2 separate regions of the Homo sapiens genome follow, and region 1 is linked to region 2. The links come from fine-mapping of genetic effects on gene expression. A gene starts in region 2. The other region holds a variant in brackets. All regions are shown on one strand. Distances are between the middles of the regions. Region 1 holds the start of PRR18 (proline rich 18). Region 2 holds the start of SFT2D1 (SFT2 domain containing 1).

Evidence for each region.
Region 1: its variant is fine-mapped to the expression of SFT2D1 in whole blood (INTERVAL, PIP above 0.99).

Annotation. Positions count from the first base shown.
Region 1 is chr6:166,294,406-166,309,925 of GRCh38, forward strand. It overlaps PRR18 (proline rich 18), which reads right to left and starts at 13,987. Exons shown (of 1, transcript NM_175922.4): 1 at 10,895-13,987. The coding sequence starts at 13,737. The coding sequence ends at 12,850. LOC107986669 (a long non-coding RNA gene) reads left to right here and starts at 13,143. Exons shown (of 3, transcript XR_001744464.2): 1 at 13,143-13,318; 2 at 15,317-15,412. RefSeq lists a silencer at 13,470-14,069 and an enhancer at 14,140-14,419. The variant G/A (reference allele first, on the strand shown) is at 9,959.
Region 2 is chr6:166,334,905-166,346,311 of GRCh38, forward strand. It overlaps SFT2D1 (SFT2 domain containing 1), which reads right to left and starts at 7,641. Exons shown (of 8, transcript NM_145169.3): 1 at 7,515-7,641. The coding sequence starts at 7,577. LOC100289495 (a long non-coding RNA gene) reads left to right here and starts at 7,727. Exons shown (of 2, transcript NR_040022.1): 1 at 7,727-8,243. It also overlaps the pseudogene HNRNPA1P49. RefSeq lists a silencer at 7,352-7,511 and an enhancer at 7,573-8,466.

The DNA of each region.
Region 1 (15,520 bases), 38 kb before region 2:
CTCAGGAACAGCAGACAAGTCCCCCAGGGGTGGGAGCTTGACAGCCAACAGCCACAATTGCCTGAGACACTGTGCTGGTGACAGGCAGGCAGGCTCCTTTGAGGCACTACTAAAGTCTTTTTGTAACCAAATAGGCAAGTCTTTTTTCTAATATCAGACATATATATTTGAGACAGGGTCTTGTTGTGTCTCCCAGGCTGGAGTGCAGTGGTGTGATCAGGCTCACTACAGCCTCAACTTCCTGGGCTCAAGCAATCCTCCCACCTCAGCACCCCAAGTAGCTGGGACTACAGGTGTACACCACACCCAGCTAATTAAATTTTTTTTGTAGAGATAGGGCTTTGCTATGTTGCCTAGGCTGATCTCAAACTCCTGGACTCAAGCAATCCTCCCAGCTTGGCCTCCCAAAGTGCTGGGATTACAGGTATGAGCCTTTGTGTCCAGCCAAAACTGAAAGTTTTTTAGAAAAACATAACTGTATTAGTCCTCAGGTTTTTTAAATTGCAAATGCATAGAACAGAATCATAACAAGTGTGGAAAATAATAAATCTAAGGCTGAAAGAAAAATGTCAGAAGAATCCACTTCAGGTTGACTTGGCCATCTTAGTAAATGACAGAGTTGGAGCACTGTCATCTTGGACAAACACCACCACTTTAAGTTCCAGCTCCCTTTCTAGCCTCATGCATTTCAAGGAAATCACTTCTCTTCTAACAACAAGCAGTCAGAAAGAGCAGACAGTAAAACACAGATAAGACAGCTCAGGCACAGAGGCAGGTGTGGGGAAGTCTCTTGGGTAACTGCCAAACTTCACCCTCATAAAATGGGCCCCAGTAAAACAGTGGGCATTAATAAGCACATTCTTTTCTCTTCAGGTGCACTAAGATAGGGAAGCTAAAAGCAGAACTCGGGGGTGGATTAAGCGGGGGTATGCCTGCAGCTGCAGAAAGATGTATGGGAACAGACACAACCCTCCCTCCCAGATAAGCACAACAAGGAGACACAGAAGCAGTCCAAGCCTCTGATAAACGTTCCCTCCCTGAATCCTTAAAAACTCTTAGTCTATAAGAGAAAGTGCCTCTGACCTCACTCGGCCAGAAGCCCCTCTCAGGTTTATTCTCTAAAATAAACCTGTCTTTGACTGTCGAGCCACTTTTCGTGTTTTTTTCCTCTTTCTTTAATTCTTACAGTAAGGAGAACCTTGGAGCATCGGGACTTTTAACTCTGTCTTTATGTATTTCTATCCTTGGGCACAATGAGCACATATAATTTTATAATTTAAAAAATCAGATAGAGAAAGCTTTAAGTGAAAATTGTTCTATTCTGTGATGCCTGAAGGTCAGTTGCACAAGGCAGAATTTTCCATGCCCTTCTATCAGGTCTGCAGTAGCAGAAGTGTGTGTGTGTGTGTGTGTGTGTGTGTGTGTGTGTGTGTGTGTTTGTGTTGGGGCGGGGTGGGAGGAACAGCATAAAGTCAGCTAAATGTGAGACAGCTCTGGGTCCTTCCAACATTACTGGTAAACAAATACATGCCATGTCAACACACCCTGTTGGAAATGTGTAGTTCATAGTCTAATGATATTAAAGAACCAGTCTGCAGGGTGAATCCCCTTTAAGCTTCATGAAATCCACCTAGATGTGCACCAGTCTACTGGTGCATTACCCAGCTGCCAAGTGTCCTGAGAGGGGGATTAATAATTTGTCCACAATACCAAGTACTTGAAATTTTTTCTCTCTCAATTTCCTGAAGAAATCAACAACACTAACAAGCTGTACGTACCAGAGTCAGCTAGCAATGCTCTGGAAACAATAGCAGGCTCTTTAGTCCCAGCTGAAGGAACAAGTCTTTCATTCTCTGCAATCCCATCTGGGGATGTTATTGGTGCTATTACAGTTAAAGAAATCCATGCATTGCAGAACAGTTAAAAATCTGAAACACTGGTCTGTAGAATGAAAGAGTGACTCAGGATGTTTTGATCAACCCAATCAACATGAAGCAATCTAAGTACCTATGGACGTTCATGTCAGCAAGCCCAGCACAGCCCCAGCAAGCCACACAGGACGCTTCTGTTTATGCATCCCACAGATGTGGTCCAAAAAAGACAAATGGTACTGATTGGAGTCTGTTTCGTTAAAAACTGACTCTGAAGGAGTTTCTCATAGAGAAAGATCCGAACCATTTTGAGCTTCGGAGAATTTGGTTGGACCTGGAGGAGGGGCTGGCTTGAGAGAGAGGGAAGTGAGCAGGGAACCTTCCAGCACTTTGCAAAGCCCAGGGCAAGTGGGTTTCCTCCTCTTCCCTCCCGCTCACCAGCTCTCTCCTTCCTCTTCCTCCAGGGCTGGCAGGGCAGAGGTGACACCAGTGGGCGTCAGCTGACCCTGTTCCTTCCATGCCCAAGTCTTCCCTCATTCTGGGTGCCCTGCCCACCCCTCTCCCACCTCTTCAAACACTTCACGCCCTCCCTTCTCCTCGTTAAAAAAATCCCAGTAGCTTACTATGGAGCAAATGAGCCATCTCCAGTTGCCTTGCCGTGCTCACCCTAATGGTACTGACTGTGTTTTACAGCAAAAATAGAATCTTCAGCCATCATCACTAAGTACGTGCTCATGGGGTTCAGTGCTGGGGGAGGCTATGGAAAATTGAGACATCAGGCAATTCCAGCCAGCCTATTCCCAGGTCTCCAGTACCACTGGAAACACGCTCCCCTGGGTTCAGAAAGCACAAGACTATTTCTTAGAGATCTTCACGTAATTAGAACTCGCTCTATCCCTTCATTTCCCAGCTCCTCATTTATCATCCTAACCAGATCTATTTTAAAACAAAGGTAAGTGTAACCTAAAAACTACACACAGCAAAATATCACTGGTGTGATCACAATATTCTCCTGTGCTGTTGCACGAGGTGCTACCCTGAGAAGATTGAGAATGCATTCTTCTAAAATTCTGGTAAATATTTTATTGTCGACATGCGACTATAGTTTCTTCTGGAAGTTGCTGGGCTGCAAGCCCAGATAGGTATCCCTAGAAAAGGTGCTCATAACTTTCTATCTCCACAAAATATATGCCTGCTGTTGAGAGTAGGGAGATAAAGTCATCTCTTTAGTGCGGCTTTGACTATAGCCCCGGCTGCCCCCTGGATCCAGTTGGCCTGAGAGCATCATGATTTGTAACAAATATGAAACTATGTGAGCTCATCTGTTCTTCAGTTTTCTTTAATTGACACTTCCACTCCTCTCGATGTCCCTCCGCAGACCCTGGGATGACACAGAAGCGGGCGCTCGTTGTCCTTTAAGTGGATGAACGAGGCCCTTTGTCTGAAGTCCCTGTCTCCTGTGTGCTGCGTGTGCTCTTTTTCTGCGGCATGACGACACCGCAGATGAGGAGAGCCACAAAGGGCAGCGAGTGTCTCGGAACTCTGTGGTTCCATTGTCTCCGCGGCGCTGGGCTGCAGTCAAGCCAGGCTCACCCTTGCAGGGCTGCACCAAGGGACGAGATGTGACGGTGACAGACGATGGCCAAGGCCATCTTACCGAGTGCCAGGCACGGGCCTCGGCACCTGCTGTGCTCTGTCTGGGGAAGCGGGCACAGAGATGAAGCGGCCCCACGGCGGTCCCTCCCCAAGAAAGGGGTGGACCTGGGACCGGAGCCAGCACAGGGGACCCATGGCCCCCGTCGGAGCCGTCCAGTGCCCCTCAGCGCCTGTCCTCCTTCTCGTTTTCCCAGATAGCTGGTTTCGTATAAGTGTTTTTGTATGTTTTTTATTTGTTTGTTTGCTTGTTTTGAGACGGAGTTTTGCTCCTGTTGCCCAGGCTGGAGCGCAATGGCACGATCTCAGGTCACCGCAACCTCCGCCTCCCGGGTTCAAGCGATTCTCCTGCCTCAGCATCCTGAGTAGCTGGGATTACAGGCATGCAGCACCACACCCGGCTAATTTTGTATTTTTAGTAGTACAGGGTTTCACCATATTGGCCAGGCTGGTCTCAAACTCCCAACCTCAGGTGATCAGCCCGCCTCGGCCTCCCAAAGTGCTGGGATTACAGGCGTGAACCACCGTGCCTGGCTCGTATAAGTGTTTTTTAAACAACTCCCTGGAGTAAAGATTTCCTGCTTTCATGATGCTAACTCAGGAACCCCATGCCGACCCCTCCATCGTGAGCTATAGTAAGGAAACAGGCCGTTTTCTCTAATCCCCAAACAGTCTTAACTCGAATGTTGCTGGCCTCTCGACCATGAAGCAACAGTGGCAAGTGCATGTTGGGAGGTAGTCCAAAGTAGATTTGCAGGGATGTTTCCCTCCCTGCTCCAACAGGACATCCCTATGGGGTGAGGTACAGAGAGGGGCACACCCAGCCCAGCTCCCTCCACTGACCCCAGGCCCTGAGGCAGGCACCATCCAGAAGGGAGCCATGTCTGCCTTGAACTGGCTATGAGTTGGTTGTTGCCACTCCTACCTGAGTGATGGGGGACCCCTCCCAAAGAGTTTCCCCGCCTTTATCTACAAGACTGACAAAGCAGTTGTGTCCAGTCAGTGATGAATGTGAGACCTCGGAAATTAAGGTGAGTCTTCTTATTGATGTTACTAGAAGGCGGGAGGGGCTGTGGGAAGCTGATCTCTTGCACAGATCTACAGGGGCGGAGAGGTGAGCTAAAGTCCAGAGCTTGCTCAGAGAGGGCAGTGGGTGTTGGAGGGGGACTGGGGTTCTCACGCCCCAGGGACCAGGCATCCCCCTCTCCATGAATGCTGTGGCCATGCAAATTAGGCTCTCGTTTGCAAAAGGGAAAGATTTTTTCAAAACATTTGAGATGATGTGTGCTGGGGGAGTTCTGTATATCTATTCTTTCGATGAAGGAAATAAAAGCAAAATCCTCCTTGCGTCCACTCCTACAAAGAACATTGTAAATCACAGAATTTCAGCCTCAGTCATGTGTATATTGGCTGTTTTTAATTATGGCAAAGAAGGTATTGACCACAGAAAAAATATCTTTCTAAAATCACAGTGGGAAATGAGGGTGAGTTCTCACTCTGCATGACACTGTGGGCAGTGGGCTGGAAGGGCTGTGGCCCGGGCCTCTTTCTGTTCACGGCATGTCTGCGGATCCTTTTCACATCTGTAGGATCTGTAGTTATATCCCTTCTTTCATTCCTGGTCTTGATAATTTGTTATTTTTTTTTTCTTGATCAATCTTGCTAAGGGTTGCTTAATCTAATCTTATTTTTAAAGAATCAGCTTCGGACCTTGTTAATCCTCCCTATTGTCCTATTTTGCTGATTTCTGCTGTGGTCATTATCCATCAAAGGTTTTAAATCTATGGTCCATGGAACCCTCAAGGTCCTAAATCCACTTCCTGGGAGGCTCCTGAAGTCCTACCTGGTCTCCCACTGGCCCCACAGCACTGGGACAGGCCCTTTGCATACTGGTTAGGAACTTGTACTCAGGCCAACCTGGGCATGAGCCCAGCTGTAAAACTAAATAGGTGTGAGGTGAATCTGTCAGTTGCTTTACCCTCAGAGACTCATTTTCTTTTCTTTTTTTTTTTTTTTTTTGAGATGAAGTCTTGCTCTTGTCACCCAGGCTGGAGTGCAATGGCACTATCTCGGCTCACTGCAACCTCCGCCTCCGGGGTTCAAGCGATTCTCCTGACTCAGCCTCCCAAGTAGCTGGGATTACAGGTGCCTGCCACTATGCTCAGCTAATTTTTGTATTTTTAGTAGAGACAGGGTTTCACCATGTTGGCCAGTCTGGTCTGAAACTCCTGACCTCAGGCGTCCCCCGACCTTGGTCTCCCAAAGTGCTGGGATTACAGGCGTGAGCCAATGCGCCCAGCCAGAGACTCATTTTCTATACCTGTAAAGGCAAAGAAGGTTGCTGTGAGGCTCAAGCTTGCCCATGCATGCAAAGTAGTCAGCACCAGCATCTCGACGCTCTACCTGTTGGTGGATATGTGAGAAGCCACCTCCAGGACTTATGCAGATGTTATGAATTTTGAGTATGATGCATAATGATTAAATCAAGCTAATTAATCTATCCATCACTTCAAAAGTTTGACATTTTTGTGATGAGAACGTTTGAGATTTTCTCTCTTAGTGATATGGAAATGTACAGTCTGTGTCCTTTTAATTCGGTGGCCTCCCCCTAGAAGGGAAAGGAAGATAACTGCTGAGTCAGCTAGAGACAGCATATGGTCATGGCTTTAGCGAAAAAAGAAGAGAAAGTTAAAAGCAAATGAAAATTGCCAAGAAGTGATCAGAAGAAGAAAAAAGAGAGAAGGTGGGGAAAAGAAAAAGAAAACTTTTTAAGAAGAGAAAGCAAGACAGAGTGTTTCTCTGTACACATGCATCAGAATGCAGACAGACGGCTGGAGCCGCAGGGCTGTGGGCCAGCAGGCAGTGGAGAACAGCCTGGCCGGGCCTGCGCCCTGCACAGGTTCATTAAGGGACTATGCCTTAGATTATCTGCCTGGCCCACAGATTCTGTCAAAAATTTCAGAGCAGGCTGGACGAGGTGGCTCAGGCCTATAATCCCCTCACTTTAGGTAGCTGAGGCGGGTGGATCACCTGAGGTCAGGAGTTCAAGACCAGCCTGGCCAACATGGCGAAACCCTGTTTCTACTAAAAATACAAAAATTAGCCAGACATGATGGTGGGCACCTGTAATCCCAGCTACTTGGGGGGCTGAGGCAGGAGAATCACTTGAACTCAGGAGGCTGAGGTTGCAGTGAGCCAAGATCGCGCCATTGCACCCCAGCCCGGGTAACAGAGTGGGACTCTGTCTCAAAAACAAAAACAAACAAAATTTCAGAGCAGATACAAAGGCAAAAATAAGAGATTGTGGGGAGCAAATAAAATCTTTGCAATCTTAGGTTACAGACTTCAGTCCTGGCTTGAACATTTCTGACTAGTTCGGCAAATTCTTTCATCTCCACATTCTTGTAGGTAGAAATAAAAAGGTTGAACTAATTAATTTTTCAAATTTCAATAAAAACTCTTCTATTTTTATGCTTCCAAAAGTTATGTGTTTCTGTGCATGCTTGCGTATGTGTGCACGAGTGTGTTTGTGCGCATGTGTACATTTGTGTACGTGTGTGTTTGTGTATGTGTGCTGTGTGTGCACCTAAGTGGTGGGAAGAAGCTGAGGATCTTATCTTGCTATCATATTCCATAAGTGGCCTTAAAAAGCAACTGAAACCACAGACCACGTTCTGGGTTGGATCTTGTCCCCAACACCCCCAAATTAATATTAATATATCAAAGCTCTAAATGCACTGTGACTATATTTGCAGAGAGTGCCTTTAAGGAGGTAATTTTAAGGTTAAACGGGCACATACGTGAGGGCTGTGATCCAACAGAACTGGCATCCCTGTAGGAGAAGGAAGAGATACCAAGGCTCTATGAGGACGCAGTGTGGGAGGCGGCCGTCTGCAAGCTAGGAAAGAGGCCTCACCAGGGACTAGCCTTGCCGGCATCTTGATTCTGAACATCCAGCCTCCAGAACTATAAGAAAATAAGTATCTGTTTTTTAAGCCGCCCAGTGTGTGGTATTCTGTTAAATTGGCCCAAGTAAACAAATACAGATCAATGGCTGTCCTAAAGAACCGCTCAATATTGACTGTCCTCAAACCAAAGTCATTGCTCTCGGCAGACCTGGATACACCTTTGGACATGCTGACCCATTAGATTACGTAAGGAACAGTTCCAGTTAGTTTTGTGTCTCAGATACCCTTCATCCTGTAGAGGCAGGGTAAATATTTTTTGAATGAATAATAACTGAACAATTCTGGGCCTGCTGGCATACTATCCTGCTCAAAGTGAAATACTCAACAGATACTTGTTATAATTTCCTCGTAAAATCAGGTGTTGAGCTCCATGCACTGTCTGGGGTTGGCTTTTCAGGACACGCCCATGCATCTGCAGTTCTCAGAGCCTGCCTCCCGCTCTGGTGACAGGATGGCATCAGGAGTGGCATCAGGAGTGGCATCGGGAGTGGCATGTGCTGTGTTGTAGAAGCTTGTATCTGGGAGGCTCTCATAATTATGCTGACAGAGGTAGACGAGGGAAGACCTAGGACACAGTCATCAAGGGCGGGGACTCCGGATGAATGAGATGTGGGGCAAGGCCCCCCAGAAGTGGAGTGGCCAGCACTCCCAATTCTATGAGCTGGACGGTGCCTAGGCTGATGACATGGGGTCACTTTAGTTATTTTTGGTCATTGCATCCTACCCTCCCTGCCGTGAAAACACATGGCCAGGAAGGGAGACATGACTACCTAGAAAAGGAGACTCTATATTGACAGAGTCGCATTGCAGGGTCTCTTGTGAGAGGACACAGTTGGTTAAATCCACCTTCAATAAAATCTGCCTGAAGTATTTCCTGAGCCTGGTCGTGTATTTCTTGCCATATAGCAATGGCTCCCAACCTGGTGGCACATCAGCCCTTTCCCAGATCTACTGAATTAGTATCCCTAGGTCTGAGGTCTGGAATATCTGTTTCTTAAAACACTTCCCATCCATTTCAGATGCAGCTAACCCAGCCTTTACAGCAGGCACTAGGAGCCAACATGGTATGGATGAAACCAGCAGTTTGATTGTTCTAGGGTCTCTTAGTTCTGATACAGGAAGTACTGATAGATAAACCTACACTGAAGAAGGTTCTTTGGCTTCCCTCAATACTTTTTTTCCCTTCAATAATTTTTGAGACTAGAAAGAGGTCACGAGACCAAACATTTAAGGACTGATGTCGAATTGTCTGAGGTACTAGGGCAGTACTTGCTAAATATTTGAGCAGATCTAAAACTGCTTCCTGAAGATTCCCTACTGTATTTTGTAGGTTTCCATCCACACCACCTCCATAAGGTGGGATGGTCCAGTTCCAGCAAGGATGTCGCTGATAATGACCCCACTGGCTTTCATCAAGAGCTAATAGTAATGTAAAGAACATTTAGGCATCTTTGGCCGGGCGCAGTGGCTCATGCCTGTAATCCCAGCACTTTGGGAGGCCGAGGAGGGTGGATCACGAGGTCAGGAGATCGAGACCATCCTGGCTAACACAGTGAAACTCTGTCTCTACTGAAAATACAAAAAAATTAGCCGGGCATGGTGGCTGACACCTGTAGTCCCAGCTACTGGGGAGGCTGAAGCAGGAGAATGGTGTGAACCCAGGAGGCAGAGCTTGCAGTGAGCCGAGATCACGCCACTGCACTCCAGCCTGGGTGACAGAGTGAGACTCCGTTTCAAAAAATAAAAAAACAACAAGAACACTTAGGCATCTTCGAGAAGCTGCATTTAAGGATACTACTATCCATTGTGTTGTATATAATCCAAATACACACATAACAATTTTCTCCAAGAAGTGTTTCTTGTTATTAGATATTGAGATTATATGACTCTTACTTTAAACTTTGTCTCTGCTACCAGGAAGCTCAGAGCTAAATTTTGTGCTCATAACATAATAATTAAGTGTGAGATAAGAAGGCAAAACACAATAGACATTTTAATTTTTTAATTCCTCAGGAATATAAAAGTGTAGGTGTGCATTAAATGGTTAAAGATAAAAATCTCAGAATGCTGTAACTAGGGAGGTTTTGAATGTGCACAAGAGTGCCAGAGTTTTTTGAGTAGTAAAGACTTTTTTGAAATAGTAAAAATTACAGTTAACTTTGAGCTGGGGGAACGCTTCGCATATTGCCTCATAATCCTCACCAGGGTCACCTATGTTCAACTATCCCCACAGACAGAAGAGGAAACAGACATGGAAGTTTAATGAAAGATGTGGATAAATGACAGCATCAGTGTGGCAACTCCAGCCTCTAGGGCACCAAAACCCACCTTGAACCATGGTGCGGTACCTTCTCCCACACAATGCTGAGGGGCGCTCTGACTCCAAGCCAGACCAAGGGGCCTCCACTACAGGCCATGGGAGCAGCTGTGCCCTTACCCAGGCAGCATCTGGACAGAGGCCATGCT[G/A]GGGAACCACATCAATCCAGGTTTCCCAGAGGTCACAAAGGCCTGTGTGTGCATTTCTGTTGATGCAAAAGTGTCCTTGCTTACTAGAGAGACTGTTATTTTCAGACTTTCTTTGAATGATATACCACGGTTGGCTGAAAAGCAGAGATCCCACAGATCACCCACCCTAAACTGAACCGCGTGATTTCCAGGGAAACCCCACAACTAATGGTTCTGACAACTTGGCATCCACTTTTCTAGAAATAAGGCAGATCAACATAAAAACCTATCTTAAAGTGCCAGCTATTCTCTAAATAGAGGGAATTAAGTCACATATATGCTCAATCTTTGGAACTGGCAACACTTTTACTTACATAGTGGCACCCAATTTTCTCTCCTGGGATGGAAGTCCTCCTCAGTCCCTGCTATGAGATATTACAGTTATGGGAGAATTTGATAATAATATAATAGTAATCTAATAGTCTAGCAATTATTCAAATTGACCCTTTAATTTCTGATTGGTATGACCTACCAGTATGAAATTACTTTAGGCAAAATAAAAAAAATATTCTAGTGAGTGTATATAGGAGGAGTCCTTAACCTGGGACCCATGAGCTTCTTAAAATATATGCAAATTATATGCAATGTTTTGTTGCTATGTGGTACACGGTTTTAGGAGTCCTTTTGGAATATAGCTTTCACGGGGATTTGTGGCCCCATAAAAGGTCAAATGTCATTGCCAAATAACCTTACAGTATTTGACTATCTTAAAAATCCTGGTAGTGATTTTTAAAAATTCTAGTAGTGATTAAAACCAGCAAACCTTTTTCAACTCCTGGAAATCCCAGAACCTTAGGTTGAGTGCCACTATGAAGAAATCATGTCATGTGAATTGTAAATCCCTCAGTAGTCTCTTCCTGACCAGTTTTCAGTGTCCCCCTCAAAAAGAATCACAAGTCACTGAATTTCTCTTTTATTTAAGCATTAAGAAATTGGAGCATAGCGACTTAGAAAACTTTCTCAAAATGTCCTTAACAGCAATGAAAAGATATCATGTGTCACGTGTAAAACCTTTTTTCTGTTTGTTTTTTATTGAAGCTCATTGACCAGGGAAACATAAATGTTCCACTCATCTGCTTTTAAAGTAGAGAACAAGGCCCACAAACTCTATTTAATAAATACAAATTACTAAAAATGCGCTTAGTGTTGTATTGTGGCCAGTTAAGAACAGGAGATGCTGGGACAGAGCCTACAGAAAGGGCGGGAGAAGAAAGGAAATCAAAATGAAGCAGCTGACAGGGACGTCAGGGAGACACACAGGTGCAGTGACAGCCACACTGCAGCAGAAGCTCAGCTTGGAAGACAGAGGCTGCAGAAAGTCGGTCCCTCTAGGATGCCACCAGGGAAAAGTCTTCAAAATGTTGTTGTTACTGTGACCAAGGGCAGAAGTCTAGGCATCTTAATTATTGGTATTTGCACTAAGTGCAAGACGAGACCAAGTTGAGCCACTCCTGCCCTCGGCTCGGAGTCAGTGCACTCTTGCTCCACCCTCTCAGCTCCAGACCGTGTGCCCTGCCCAGGACGGCGCACTCAGAGACCATCTGGGTGGGGGTGGAACAAGAGCAGCACCGTCACTTGCATAAGCATTGCTAGTTTTGCCCCTCTAGAATTAATATATTCATTTTAAGTAAAAGAAAACTTATCTCCAAATTCAAAGAAGTTATTCAATGGGTAGGTTTTTTTCTGTTTTTGCAACTCATCTGGCAGCTGACCTAGCTCCCAATGAATTAAATGCTTCACATCTAACTAAATGTGTGCCTAGAATTAGAGAGAGAGAGAGAGAGAGACAGTGTGTGTGTGTTATTAGAGCAAAGACCTCCACAAGAAAAATACAAAATCTGTTTTAAAAATGTAAGGCTTCAATTTAAAATACAATTAAGACTTGATACATTTAAAGTCTATCAAGATAAACATTAAACCAGTTATTGGCTTTTACAAAGTCAGTCAAAAATTGAGGTAATACATTACTCTTTTATAACCAGCCTTATCTGATTATAACATTTTATTTCCTTCTCATCCTTCTAGTTAGATATTCTCAGATACATGGAAGAAATATGTAGAAATCAGCCTCCAGTTAGCGGGGGAAAGGATATGGTTACGAAACAGCGGAGGAGCTTTACTCTCTATTCAAATAATACACAGAAAAAATGTAATCAGCCGAGCGGTTTCCATGGAAGCGCTCATTGACCAGGGCTCACCAGCGCCTGGCGATGCCTACCCTTCCGCTTTGGAGACTGGAAATTCGGTTAACTGAGTTTCAGGGATGTCTAATACCCTCAACATTTTTCTGACTTGGGAGAAAACAAAATCACGAATGTAGGACCGGGTCCCAGCTCTGCAGGAGGCCACCGTCGCGGCCACCCACCTGGGCCATCGCCCACCGCACTGTCCAGGGTGCCCGGCGCCGGCTGAGGGTGACACCACGGGGCGTGCAGATGTAGCCCTGGGGAAGGCCCGCCTCCAGGCAGAGGGTCTCTGGGACCTAGACGAACCCTGGGGGTCGGGGCACCAAGAGGCATTTTCTCAGTTGCTTAATTCCCCACGAACTGCATGGATGCTCGGCGATGCCAAGAGGAGGCCAGAGTGGGGGCAGAGGCAGGCATCTGGGGTAGATACCACCGGTGTGAACGAGAAAGGCCCGGGCTGCCGGCTGGCGAGGGCAGGAGGGGGGCCGTGGCCGTCGGGCGAGTCTGGCTGCGCCCCACGTGGGCCAGCTTGCGCACTGGTGTCCCGAAAGTGGGCGCTGGCGGCCAGAGGAGCCTGCGGTCTCCCCCGAGGGCCCCTAGGCGGAGTGGCGCGTGCAGGAAGTGAGGTGGGATCAGGCCTGGCCTGTCCCCGCAGGCCCGCTGGGCTCACAGCGTGCTCAGGTGCCGCCGTGAGTCCAGGGCCCCCGCCCGGCCCCGCGCGGCAGCCGCGGACTCCACGCCGCGCAGCCACTCCGTGCACTTGCGTACCAGGCCCTCGTCCACCGCCTCTGGCTCCTCCTCGTACTCCACGTCGTCGTACCTGTGCCGCTCGTTGAGCAGCGACACCTTGAGCATCGGCCGCAGGGCCCCGGGCCGCGGGCTGAGCTGGGGAACCTGCAGGCCGCCGTGCAGCAGCTGGGCGCCGGGCGGAGGCGCGCGGCGGCCCTGGCCGGCGGTGGGGGGTGCGTCGGGGTCGCTGGCGGGGCCGCCCCTCCGCGGGCCCGCGGCCCTAGCCGGGAGACACGGGGCGAGTAGGCGCCTGGGTTCGGCCGAGGGTGAGGGGAAGGGCCTGCGGGGCCGCGCCAGCAGCTGCTTCTCCAGATGACGCTTCTGGATGACCAGGACGGCCTCGGGGGTGAGATTCAGGCAGAAGCGCGCAGCGGAGTCTGGACAAGGCCCCGCCCCCGAGGAGGTGCCCGCGGCGGTGGTCCCCGTCCCCGCCGAGGTCGCCGCATAGGTGGTCCTCGCTGGGCTGTGGCCGGAGCCTGCCGGCCGGGGCGGGGCGCACGTGGCTGGGGCCCGCGCGCGGCTGGGCAAGGCCTGGGGGGAGACGCCCGGAGGGGCCGGCGGCTGCGTCCTGTCCAGGCCGGGGCCGCGCCGGGCCGGCGGCCTCTTGAGCGTGGCGGAGGGCCAGGAGCTGGAGAGGAGCCCCTCGGGCCGCTGTGGGGGCCTCTTCTTCTTGTCCCCCGCGGCGCAGGGCCTCCGGGGTAACTGGCGCGCGGCTTGGGCCCCCGGGGCGGGGGCGGGCGGCGGCGGCATGGGCGGGAAGGGCATAGTGCAGCCGAGCCGCCGGATCCTCAGCCCCTGGAAAGAGAGGCGGGCGCTCAGCCACTGTGCGCGGAGCGGGTCCCCGCAGTCCGGGCGGCCCCTCCACACCCACCTGCGTCCAGCCGCGGCCTCTCCGGCTTCCTCACATCCCAGCGACCAAACCCGGGGACTCAAAGAGAGGCGCTCCCACCCTCCCCTCCTCCTGGGGGTGCTCCCGGGACTGGACCCTGCAGGAACCGCCTCCCGCCGTCCGACTGTGGGCGAGTCGCGGCGCCCCCGGGTCCCCACAGCTGAGACGCGGGCCGGGCCGGCAGGAGGAGGAGCCCAGCGCGCTCGCTAAGGACGCGGCCCTGCCAGGCCCCGGGCTGTGCCCGGCTGGTGTCACGACCGACTGTTGAATGGGAGCAAAGTGCCAGGACAGCGGAGGGCGGAGCGCGCGCCAGGCATCCCGGGGCTCCCCCAGCTGGCGCTCCGGTGGTCCGAGGTTAATGTAGTCCGTCGAAAGCCAGGAGCATTCCCCTGGGGGAGCCGGCAGCCTTCCGGAGTCACAGGTGGAGGCCCTGCACGTTTCAGAGAAAATCCCCTGTAGCCTCTCCGTGCCTTCGAGACGGCGGGAAAGGCACCGCCAGTAGATGCAGCTCTGCGGCCCCGGACACATCCTGCTTCACAGAGAAAAGCGGGCTGGAGCTGAGAGGGGAGAAATGACCCTCAGTGAATCTTACATAGTGTTCATGCCACCCCTTGAGGAGTCACTTTCAAATTCAAAACCTAAGTATCTATGAACAGGCAAAATAGTTCAGTTTCAGCTATATAATGCTGATTACATGGCAAATATTAGACATCAAGTCCCTTTAATAATTCTTATGAGCAAAGCAATATATTTATCACTGTAGCAGAGATTCAGAATTAATGAGATAAATCTTCACTGTCAATTTACATTCTAGTCGTAGACACATGAAGACATCCTACAATATTCAAATGTTTGTTTAATAAATAATTGAACAATTGCAAAGTGACGGATCAAAAAGTCAACATTTCATGTGTGCAGTCCCTGCATTACTTAAGGATAATCATCAGCTGCTTAGATCTCCACAAAGTACTTTCCATCAGATACACTTTTCTGATGGAAACCAGGTGTGTGATGGTTACGGCCCCAGGTTAGCTCCAGAGCACATTCAACTGTGGGTAAACACAAATGTGCCCTGTGCCAACAGTCACAGCAGGACAGCATGGCCCTCCCCCAGCCGCCTCAGTCTCCGAGGCAGCAGCAACGCCTCCCCTTGTTGACTGTTGGTGGCCTCAGAGAACTGCGCTGTGGATACATGGGAGCGTCAAGGAAACCTGGCAGGTGGTGGGAAACACTTCTCACCAGAGCTTGGGTTGGGGTGACAGGTTTGGGCCCTGTCATCTCTACCAGCACCTCCCAAGCCACCCCAATACAGCTCTGAAACAAGCCTCCCAGCTCACAGGCACTTTCCCTCCATCCCTGCCAGCCTGTCTCTGCCGGTGGGCTCAGGCTGTTAATCGGCTTGACAGGTGAGGTCCTAAGATACTGAAACCTCCTCCTCAATATGTTTTATTCCAGGTTTTAGAATCTCTGGATGGGTGTGGGAAGAGGCACGTCAGTGGCGGCAGGAGGCCCACAGTTCTGTGCCTGGAAAGTGGAGAACTGGAAGAGAAGGTGAGGCAGGAGAGGATGGGGGTGGGGCGGGGGGCGGTATCAAATATCATTTATGGGGGCACAGCTGGAGAGGCAGGCTATGGAGAAAAATCAGCAAACACTTGGACA
Region 2 (11,407 bases):
GCGGCATTAAAGAAGACATTGAAGAACATCGCCTAAGAGATCTTGAACAGTATGGAAAAACTGAAGTGACTGAAATCATGACTGACAGAGGTAGTGCCAAGAAAAGGGGCTATGCCTTCGTGCCTCTGACAACCACGACGCTGTGGACAAGACTGTCACTCAGAAATACCATACTGTGAATGGCCAAAACTGTGAAGTTAGGGAAGTCCTGTGAAAGCAAGAGATGGCTAGTGCTTTATCCAGCCAAAGAGGTCGAAGTGCTTCTGGAAACTTTGGTGGTGGTTGTGGAGGTGGTTTTGGTGGGAATGACAACTTCGGTCATGGAGGAAATTTCAGTGGTCATGATGGCTTTGGTGGCAGCTGTCCACAGCGGTGGCGGTGGATACAGTGGCAGCAGGGATGGCTGTAATGGATTTGGTAATGATGGAATCAATTCTGGAGGTGGCAGAAGCTCCAATGATTTTGGCAATTACAACAATCAGCCTTCAAATTTTGGACCCATAAAGGGAGGAAACTTTGGAGGCAGAAGCTCTGGCCCTTATGGTGGTGGAGAACAATACTTTGCCAAATTTTACTTTACTTTACAAAACCAAGGTGGCTACGGTGGTTCCAGTAGCAACAGTAGCCATGGCACTGGCAGAAGATTTTAACCCATTTATGCCTGAGGTTGCACTTTTTGAATTTGAAAAATCAGACCTTGGCGATGACCTTGAACAGGAGAACATAAATAACTCCCACATGCTTAGCGTTCCAATAATGGAATACCAGGCATAAATGGGTTCACAAAACCAAGGTGGCTATGGTGGTTCTAGTAGCAGCAGTAGCCATGGCACTGGCAGAAGATTTTAATCACTGCCAGGAAACAAAGTTTAGCCGGAAAGGAGAGCCAGAGAAGCGATAGGGAAGCTACAGGTTACAAGAGATTTGTGAACTCAGTCAGCCAAGCACAGTGGTGGCAGAGCCCAGCTGCTACAAAGAAGATATGTTTTAGACAATACTCACGTGTATGAGCAAAAAACTCCAGGACTGTATTTGTGACTAATTTTATTAACAGGTTATTTTCGTTTCTGTTCTGTGGAAAGTACCAAGCATTCCAACAAAGGGTTTTAATGTAATTTTTTTCTTTTGCACTCATGCTGTTGATTGCTAAATGTAATAGTCTGATCATGAGACTGAATAAATGTGTCCTTTTAAAAAACGTGCTGTGTAAAGTTAGTCTCCTCGGAAGCCATCTTGGTAAACTCCCCCAAGAGTGTGAAGTCAGAATTCCTTCAGGGTGATGCCAGGTTCTACTTGGAACTTATTTACACTCTGCTCGGGTGGAGAAGCCACTGTCTTCAGTGAGCTCGGTGTAGCTGAACTGACAGTTACTGTTGTGACCTGAAGTTCACCACCAAAGGGGATCACCCAAGCAAAGTCACAGAATTATTAGTTATAAAAATGATTGTTGGCACATCCCATGCAATATATCTAAACTGAATAATGGTACCAGATAACATTATAGATGGGAATGAAGCTTGTGTATCATCCATAATTGTATGTAGCTAATAAACTATTTAATTCTCTTAAAAAAACACTGTAGACTGGGTAGCTTATAAACAACAGACACTTATTTCTCTCAGTTCTAGAGACTGGAAGTCCATGATCAAGGCGCCAGCAGATTCGGCGTCTGGTGAGGCATCTCTGGTTCACAGATGACACCTTCTGAGTCCTCACACGATGGAAAGGGCAATGGATCCTTCTTTTCCTCAACTTCCCAGGCTCAAGCAATCCTCCCACCGCAGCCTCCCATGTAGCTGGGACCACAGGCACACACCATCACGCTCAACTAATTTTTTAATTTTTTGTAGAAGCGGGGTCTCGCCATGTTGCCCAGACTGGTCTTGAACTCCTGGGCCCAAGCAATCCTCCTGCCTCAGGCTTCCAAAGTGCTGGGATTATAGGCATGAGCCACTGCATGTGGCCTGGGGCCTCTTTTTTAATAGGGCATGAAACCCATTCCTAATCACATCCCAAAGGCACCTCCTCCTCATACCATCACATTGGGGATTAAGTTTCAACATAGGAATTCTGGGGGGGACACAGACATTCAGACCACAGCACTGTGAGTGATTTTGGGGCTGGCCACAGGCAATTACACAGGCTCTAGCAGGCAGGCCTCCCGGGGAAAGCTCCCTCTGCACACCAGACTTGGAGCACAGCCCAGGCAGTGTAGCCCCTGGGGAGGTGCAGTCAAGGTCCCAGGCCCTTCGGCCCACCACACTTTTTCATGTAGTTCCCTTCCTAGCCCAGTGCCTTATTTCCCAGGAATCCTTATCTGAGGCTGTAGGAGTAGACGGGACCCCCAGCTGGCACACGCCTGGCACAGTGGTTGGGAAGCTCACCTTGACCATTCTAGCTTCAGCCCTCCCCTGGCTGAAACCCTGCAGACACAAGTCACTTCCGTGTCCTTAATTCCAAGGAACATTTTTGAAGCATCAGTATCCTTTCCAACTCAACAGCACAGGACACTTTGGCACTCCCTCCTGCTTACAATGTTCTCTTCAACTCCCATGTCCCACCGGCTCTCCTGACTGTCCTCCCGCCTCGCCAGCTGCTCCTGCTTGGGGTCTCCTCTGCCGCCTTAGCTCCTTCTACCTGGAAAGACAGCTTCCTCCTTGTGTTTCTCTACACTCCCCCTAACCACCTCACCCACACCTACCATGGGAACAGTGAGGGAAATAGATAAGGTAGGTATACTTACAATCTTCTAAGTGGGAAAGGCAGAGAGAGCTTAAATTGTTTATTAGGCATTTTTCTCTTATTACCATCTTCCACGCGGTGATCTTTGAAGTGAAACATGATAAATTAATGCCATTTGTAAATATGAAATAACTCAGTCAACAAGCAAATGACTTGTCTCAACCTGTGTGCTATGGTCTGAGTGTTTGCTGAAATCCTCGACCCCATGGTGATGGTACTGGAAGATGGCCCTTCAGGAGATGATCAGGTCATGGGGATGGAGTCCTCATGAATGGGATCCACGCCCTAATAAGACGAGAAAGAGACTAAAGCTCTCTGCTCTCTGCCATGTCAAGATATAACCAGAGGCAACAGTGTGACACCAGGAAGGGGGAGGCCTCACCAAGAACCCATGAGTGCACCTTGATCTCTGACTTCCGGCCTCAAAACCCGTAAGAAATAAATTTCTGTTGTTTATAAATCACAAAGTCTAAGGTATTTTATTACAGCAGGCTGAATGGACTAAGACATCTCGCAAATTGTCAGCAGGGGTTAGTAGGACTCCCACAAGAGAACTCTGTAGAATGTTCCGGCATTATGTTCTTGTCATCTAACTCCCAACAATTACCTTATGCCAATGCCCTCAGCTCTCCTTGGTAGTTACCCAAATCCAAACAACTCACTCATCTGTTTGTTCAACAAGTAGTTATGAACAGCTATTAGACACCAGGTACTTGGTAGGTTCTACATACACAGAAAGGAATAAGACAGCACCTAGCGTACTTACATTCAGATGGGGGAAAATGGGCAATAAACTAATGAGGCAGGTTCTACTAAGGACATAAATAGGGGCAGAGTAACTGGGTCAGGAAGAGCCTCTCTAAAGAGGTGACCAAGTGAAGACATCAGGAAGTGACCAATCCAACTCTGAAAAGAGCCAGGAAGGGGCATTCCTGAAAAAAGAAATGCAACTGCCAGGTCTCCCAGGCAGAAGAAAATGGCTCCAACTGAGGAGGAGAAAGAGGGCAGGGCAAGGCAAGCACTGGGGAGAGGGTGGGGAGGCGGGCCGACAAGCAGTGCAGGGCTGAGAGGCCAAGGGAGGGATCTGGATTTTACTCAAGTGCTGCAGGAAGTCAATGAAGGATGTGATCAGGGGAGGAATATGATCAACTCTCTTAAGATCTGGCTCAATATCTCTCCCTCCTTGACTTCTTCCCAGGCATCTCGAAGGAGAGGTCCCAGAACTCTGGCTACCGTGCCTCTCCCCGGGGCTCAAAGCGCCTGCATAGGAGGATGATGCAGCCTGGATGTCAGGATGCTCCCCTATGACCTTCACTGCCTCGCCCAACTCCTCAACTGGCCTAGAACCATCCCTGTCAAGACCCAATTCCAATGTGCCCGCCATCCTGGTTACGTCTTGCTGCACAAGACGTGCAACACTCTCAGGTCATCCCTCACCCCATTCAGGTCTGTGCGCCTTTAATCCCATCTCATCTCCTACCCATCTCCAAAAACCAACAGCAAACCTCCCTATGTCCTCACCCTCTTCTCTGATGATCCTCTCACCTTCCGGCTAGGTTTGAAATTTAGTCTCCAGGACCAGGGCTCTCCCCTGTGAATCCTGTACCACTTGGACAGGCAGTGAGCTAGGTGTCTGCCCTCCTCACTGCCACTTCCTGCCCCTTCCTCCTCCCTAGAGAAACCTGCTTTCCAAGTCACTCCTCAATAGCCCCCTAGCAACAATTCCCTCTTGCCTGCACCATAATTTTCCCCTTTCCTGGACCATTCCCAATGCACAGAAACATCCAGTATTTTCCTTGGGAAAATGACATGTTCCCCGACCCCACTGCATCCTTCAACTACCACCCACTTCTTTGCTCCACAGGAAAAATCACTGAGATGGCCATACCATCTCCATCTTCTTTCTATTCTCCCCTGACTTCAATCAGGCCTCTGACCCCATCCAGCCACCAAGACTGCTCTCGTGGAAGTGACAACTGATAACCTCCACGGGTAATCTGCTCTTAACTTCTGAGACCCATCAACAGTACTGGGTCCCATCCCCTTCCTAAAGCACTCTCTTCCCTCACTTTCTGGGGCATCCTTCTCTCTTGGTTCTCCTCCTCCTTCTCTCGCCACGCCTCTCAGCTGTCTTTGCCGGCTTCTGCTCATCCTCTAAACTTCTACACACCTAGAGAAAACCAGAGGTCAAACCTTGGACCTCATCTTGACGATCTCATCTCTCTCCTATTTCCTCCCACAAACTCTACAGTGTTACGTCCAACTGCTTTCCTCACATCTCCACTTGGATGCTACCTGGATCTCAGACTTCACGTCCACACTGAAATGATTTTCCTCCCTGAACCTGCTCCTCCCACAGTCACTTAATGGCAACTCCACCTCTCCAGATGCTCAGGTCGAATGCCATGAGGCATCCTTGCCTCCTCCCACTCTCACACATCCAATCCGTCAACAGTGTGGCCTGCTGGCTGTACACTCAGACCATTTACAGAATCTGACCACTTTTTTGTTTTTTAAACAGGCTTTTTTGCTCTTTAAACCACTTCTATCACTGATTTGAGCCACAGTCATCTCTTGCCAGGACAACTGTACTTGTCTCCAGCCCAGTCTCTGGGCTTCTAACATTGCCTCTACAGTTTGTTCTCCACAGAGCTGCCAGAGTGATCCTTTAAAATCCAAGTCGGTCACACCACCACTCTGCTCTAAACCCAAAGGCTTCCTATCACACTCAGAGTAAAGCTAAAATCCTTTCTATGGCCTATGAGAACCCTCACAATTGAGAATCCCCCTTCCTGCTTCACCTTTTCTTCTACAATTGTCCCTCTTCTCTGCCCCGCTGCTAGAGCCCCTCTGGCCTCCTTACTGGCCCTGAACATGCTGACCACACACCACTTGGGACTCTGTATCTGCCTTGGAGGCTTTTATTCACAGGATGCTCAGACATCCCAGCAGCTCTTCTGAGCTGTGCTCACATGACTCCCTGGCAGGGAGGCCTTATCTAAGTAATATGGCAACCCCAACCTCCTCAACCTGCTCTGACTTTTTCTGTGGCTGTCTGACACATTATATACTTGTTTATTCACTGTTTCCTCCAATTAAAATTTAAGTTCCATGTGAAAGAGGTATTTGCACTGGTCACTGTTATTAACACCTGCATCTTGAACAATGTCAAACATATGCAGGAACTTGAATATTTGTTAATGAACGATCACCTCCTCTGAACTCACAGCACTTGTCTATACAGCCAGTCACTCTAATCTTTGATTGATTACTTCTCCACATATCTTTCTCCCCTCTAGACAGTGGGCTCAAGATAAGTGATATTACCTTTGCATCTCCAAAGTTTAGAGTAGCACTGTCCAATAGAACTTTCTGCAATGCAAATGTTCTGTATCTGCGCTGTTTAATACAGTAGCCTTTAACCACATGTGCCTACTGAACATGTGAAATGTGGTTGCTGTGACTAAGGAACTGAATGTTAAATTTTATTTAATTTTAATTAATTTAAATTTAATTGCTCCAGGCGCAGTGGCTCAAGCCTGTCATCCAAGCACTTTGGGAGGTCAAGGTGGGCGGATCACTTGAGGTCAGGAGTTCGAGACCAGCCTGACCAACATGGTGAAACCCCCATCTCTACTAAAAACACAAAATAATTAGCAGGGCATGGTGGCAGGTGCCTGTAATCCCAGCTACTCAGGAGGCTGAGGCAGGAGAATTGCTTGAACCCGGGAGGCAGAGGTTGCAGCGAGTCGAGATCACGCCACTGCACTCCAGGCCTGAGCGACAAAGCAAGACTCCATCTAAAAAAAAAAAAAAAAAAAATTCATTGGCCACATGTGGCTGTGGTAATATACAGAGTTACAGAGTGCAATGAGAACAGATACTTGTCTTACACTCTCTGAACCCAAAACTGTAGCCCAGAACTCTACCCACACCAAGTGCTGAGTAAGTATAATGACAAGGAAGTCAGGAGAGACAAATAGAAGATCCTTATGAAATACAATTCAATTTTAAACGTCCAACTTCTGCGACAGCACACAATAACGTGCAATATAATCGCATGCAATAACAAAAAAACTTACACCGCAGTTCCTGCTCCACTGCTACTTTTAACCTTCTTGCTGGAGGAAGTAACCCTTATCAAGTCTCGCTGGTAAGGCGCAGACACAAGGGCTTTTATTAAGAAAAAAAAAAAAATCTCTTACCAGGGCTCACTGCCTTAACAGAAAAATTTTAATTCAATATTATTTCACTTACCAATGTCCTGTTTATTTTTCCTCCAGTCTCCCTATTTCCAAAAGACCACCCCCCAGCAAACACACACATAACACCACCTTTACCTCCAAAGACAAACAGATGCAACAAGCTTTAGGGTCTCGGCTCACTGCAGCTTGCAGGATAAATGCCCTGCATAGCTACTTACGCTGCACAGCCCGAGGCCAGACCCCGCACCAGGCTCAGAAAACCAAATAGTACGTGGGAGCGATGGATTATTTGGGAAAGCGAGGGCAGACGTTAGCGGATTCCTAAGTCAGAAGGCCAGATGGGAGAGTCGGGGGGGGGCCTCAAAGTGGGTTTAAGTAGACCGCATGGAAAACTGGAAAGTTCTCAAATTCTACCCAGGAAGCAGGCGGAGCCCTCCTAAATCAACCAGCCGGGCAGAGGAGTCCCAGACCCCCGGCCTCGCACCCACCCCACCCGCTCGGCCGGTCCTCAGTGCGGCCGGGGCCAGCGGGCAGCCCCGGGACTGGACGAGGGCGCAAGTTCGCTACCTGCGCAGTCAGGCCCTGCTCCTCGTCGTCCTGGCCGCTCAGGACTCGCCGCAGCTTCTCCATGGCCCTGTTACAGGGCCGTAGCGGCCGCCACTCTGTTGCCTGCCCCTGACGCCCACCAGGAAACCCCGAACCCGAAACCCCACAGACCAGCCGGAAGTCCGGTCCCGCCCGCTTCCTGTGCGTCAGCGCGGCCGCCGTAGCAATGCGCGCATGCTCACCAGCCTTTCTCTCGGACCCGGTAGTGGTCCGTGAAGTCCGCGGAGTGGGCGCTGATGGTGGGGCTATCCCTTCCCACTGTCCGCGAGGTGCGCCGTGGTAACGCGCGGGGACACAGCGCGGGTGTGGACCCCCTGCCCACAGCTGGCGCACAGCCATTGAGTGTAGACCCGACTGGGGCACGACCACTGAACCCTGCACTTGGCGTCCTCCGGGCCCCGCGAGGGGCCTTGCTGGGCGGGTCCGCGGCACCCCGGGTTCCCAGAAGTCGAGGCCCCGAATGCGCCTCCCCTCGCCTGGAATCGGAGAGCGGAGGGCTCCTGCGGGCAGGTGGCCGTGCTCCGAAGAGCGCCCTGCCACCCATGAGGTGGCCCTGGGGGCGTCGCTAGCCTTCCCAGCTGGGTGTCCTCATCCGGAGACACAAACACCTGCCTCAGGATTAAAGCGAGGAGCTGTATTTCAGACCGTCTCAGGAGAAATAGCAAGAGGCTGCCTCACTCCTTTGCCCTTGTGAGAGCTATTTCTTTACTCAGTTCACTGGTCAGCTAGGAGTTTGAAAGAGTGAAATCTTATTTATAAAAGGAATAGCTAATGCAACCCATTTTTCCAGTTTTGTGTGAACAGTGAAACCATTGAACAAGCGTTTACTGTTCTCCGGCTCGTGCTGGATGAACAAACACTAAGAAATGGGGAAGTGGCATTTTTCTCTCTCTCATTTTCCACCATGCTAAGAAAGGAGATTAAAAATCAGGGCTGCCTGTCTAATATGGTCTCCAGAAGTCATTAAGTGATAGGTTTTGCTCTTCTGTTTGCTTCTAGGCTTGGTAAGATGGTAATGAGAATGCCTGTTCTTTTGATTACTTTGCCCACTCCATTTCCTCCCTAAAATCTTTCAGTTAAAAGGTGGATCCTCAAAAAGTTTCATTGTCCATCCTACTGCCTCAGTAGAGATTTTATCTAAACTCAATTAGATAAAAACAAATACCACAGGAACCCTAGGAAAGCAAGTCGCGCCTTCTTGTGATGAAACGGTCCAATGCTCAGCATCCTTTTCCTTTAGGCAGAAGATATTTCTATGTGGCCTGTTCATACTAATATGAGAAGTCTTATCCTTATGTCCTTAACTTTAAAAGGTCAGAAAATAGATTGTAAAATCTATAGAATAAAACTATGTTTCTGTTGAATAAGAGAGTATGTCCGTAAGTGTTACGGGAAAGGGGTCCGGATCCATACCCCAAAAGAGGGTTCTTGGATCTTGCGCAAAAAGAATTCAGGGCAAGTGAAAACAAGTTTATTTAAAAAGTAGAGGAACATCGGTAGTCTGAGGCAGAGAATTGCTTGAACCCGGGAGGCGGAGCTTGCAGTGAGCCGAGATCGCGCCCCTGCACTCCAGCCTGGGCGACAGAGCGAGACTCCGTCTCAAAAAAAAAAAAAAAAAGTAGAAGGACAAAAGAATAGCTACTCCATAGGCAGAGCAGGGCTGTCTATTACCAGGGCTGCTGGTTGCCCATTTTTATGGTTATTTCTTGATGATATGCTAAACAAGGGGTGGATTCATGCCTCCCCTTTTTAGACCATATAGGCTAACTTCGTGATATTGCCATGGCATTTGTAAACTGCCATGGCGCTAGTGGGAGTGTAGCAATGAGAACGACCAGAGGTCTCTCTTGTTACCTTGGTTTTGGTGGGATTTGGCCGGTTTCTTTACTGCAGTCTGTTTCATCAGCAAGGTCTTTATGATCTGTATCTTGTGCTGACCTTCTATCTTATCCTGTGTCTTAGAATGACTTAACTGTCTGGGAATGCAGCTCAGTGGGTCTCAACCTCATTTTACCCAGCCGCTATTCAAGATGGGCTTCTCTGGTTCACATATCTGACATAACTGCTTTCAAGATTTTCAAGTATAGGCCGAGCGCGGTGGCTCACTCCTGTAATCCCAGCACTTTGGGAGGCAAAGGCGGGTGGGTCACAAGGTCAGGAGTTTGAGACCAGCCTGGACAATATGGTGAAACCCCGTCTCTACCAAAAATACAAAAATTAGTTGGGCATGGTGGCGGGCGCCTGTAGTCCCAACTACTTGGGAAGCTGAGACAGGAGAATCGCTTGAACCCAGGAGGTGGAGGTTGCAGTGAGCTGAGGTCGCTCGTTTGCACTCCATCCTGGGCAACAGAGTGAGACTCTGTCTCAAAAAACAAACAAAAAAACCTTACTTCCTAGCTCTTCCTGCTTCCTGGCCACATAGTTTTTTCAAGAGCCAATGACTCCTGAACACAAGGACATGCACAAAATTGTTGGGGTGATCAGACCCAACACCAGGTTGTGGGAGTGACAAAGTCCAGCAGAGTCAAAAGATTGAGAAAAAAGTTTGAGAGAGAAATGTGGGACAACAGGGGCCATTGCTATTGCGGAGGCTGTGAAGGCCCCGAGCTCTGGGAGCCCACAGTGTTTATTGGTAATCCAACTAAGAAACAGGTGGTGAGAATGTGGAGGTCATGTTGCATTAAGCACATGATTTACAGCTGTGACAGTTTAGCATTTATATGGAACATGTTCTGCTACTTGAGATAATGGGAATAGGTGCCTAGGAGCCTAGGAAGGCTAGAAGCAAGGAGCCAGCAAGTCTAGACACATTCCAGAGGACATTATGCAAGCCCTGCCTCAGTTTCCCCCCAACACTCAGCTTTTTCCCAGCATGCCCCCCTTCTCTTTATTGTAAAAGAGAAGATATCATTATTACTAGCTATCATTATTACTAGCATGGCTCTGGTTTGAATGCTTCCCACATATCTCCCCTTTCCCTTTTACAAGAAGACCCTTAATCCTAGGGGTTGCAGAAGGATGAAGGTCCATCTTCTGTAACTTCTTCATGCTGAATAGGGGTGACGATATTCCTGTCTAACTGTTAGGGTCTCTCATATTCAGGGTAGAGAGGAGCTGAGTCAGAAAGCATTGGCCCGTTAAGCATCGTGACTCCGGTCGGTCCTCATTCCTTCTTCGCATTCAGATTCAACTGGCTCATGGCTCACACTGGGGGAACCCGGTCCAAGGTTGGGATCCATGGGTACCTCCAGTCTCCCATTCCATGGTCGTACACATCTTGAGGGTATCCACACGGTTTGTTCATCTCCTGCAAAAACACAAGCATACCCTCACCCCCACGTTAGTAAATCTACTGAAACAGAAGCAAAAACTTTTGTGGCTGTAGCCGGGAGGCCACTGATAATGAGAAACAGGCCTTTTCTGATTAACAGAAGGCATAGAGAAAGCAAATCGAGGCTTTTCAAACCTTCAATTCGCACTGTACTCTACATGTGGGTCCACTAGATGCCGTGGCTCGTGATAGATCTTCAGATGGTTGGTGGGCACCCACACAGACACCTGAGTGTCACCTGGAGAGACACAAGCAAATCCTCTTCCCCACAAAATTATCTTTAGGCAGGGATCAGAGGACGTAGATTCAGAGGTAAAGAGAATTTGGGGGGCCTAATGGCTTCCTCATGTTTGATAGGTGTTCCCTCGGAAGTTAGGAATTCCCTTTCTCTCCATATTGCTGCGTGGGCTTGGAGGACTAGGTAAGCATGCTTAGAGTCTGTATATTTAACCTTTTTCCTTCTAATTCTAGTGTATAATGGCCCCTGCTTTTGCTAGAATGTCTCTCCCTAACAAAGGAGTGG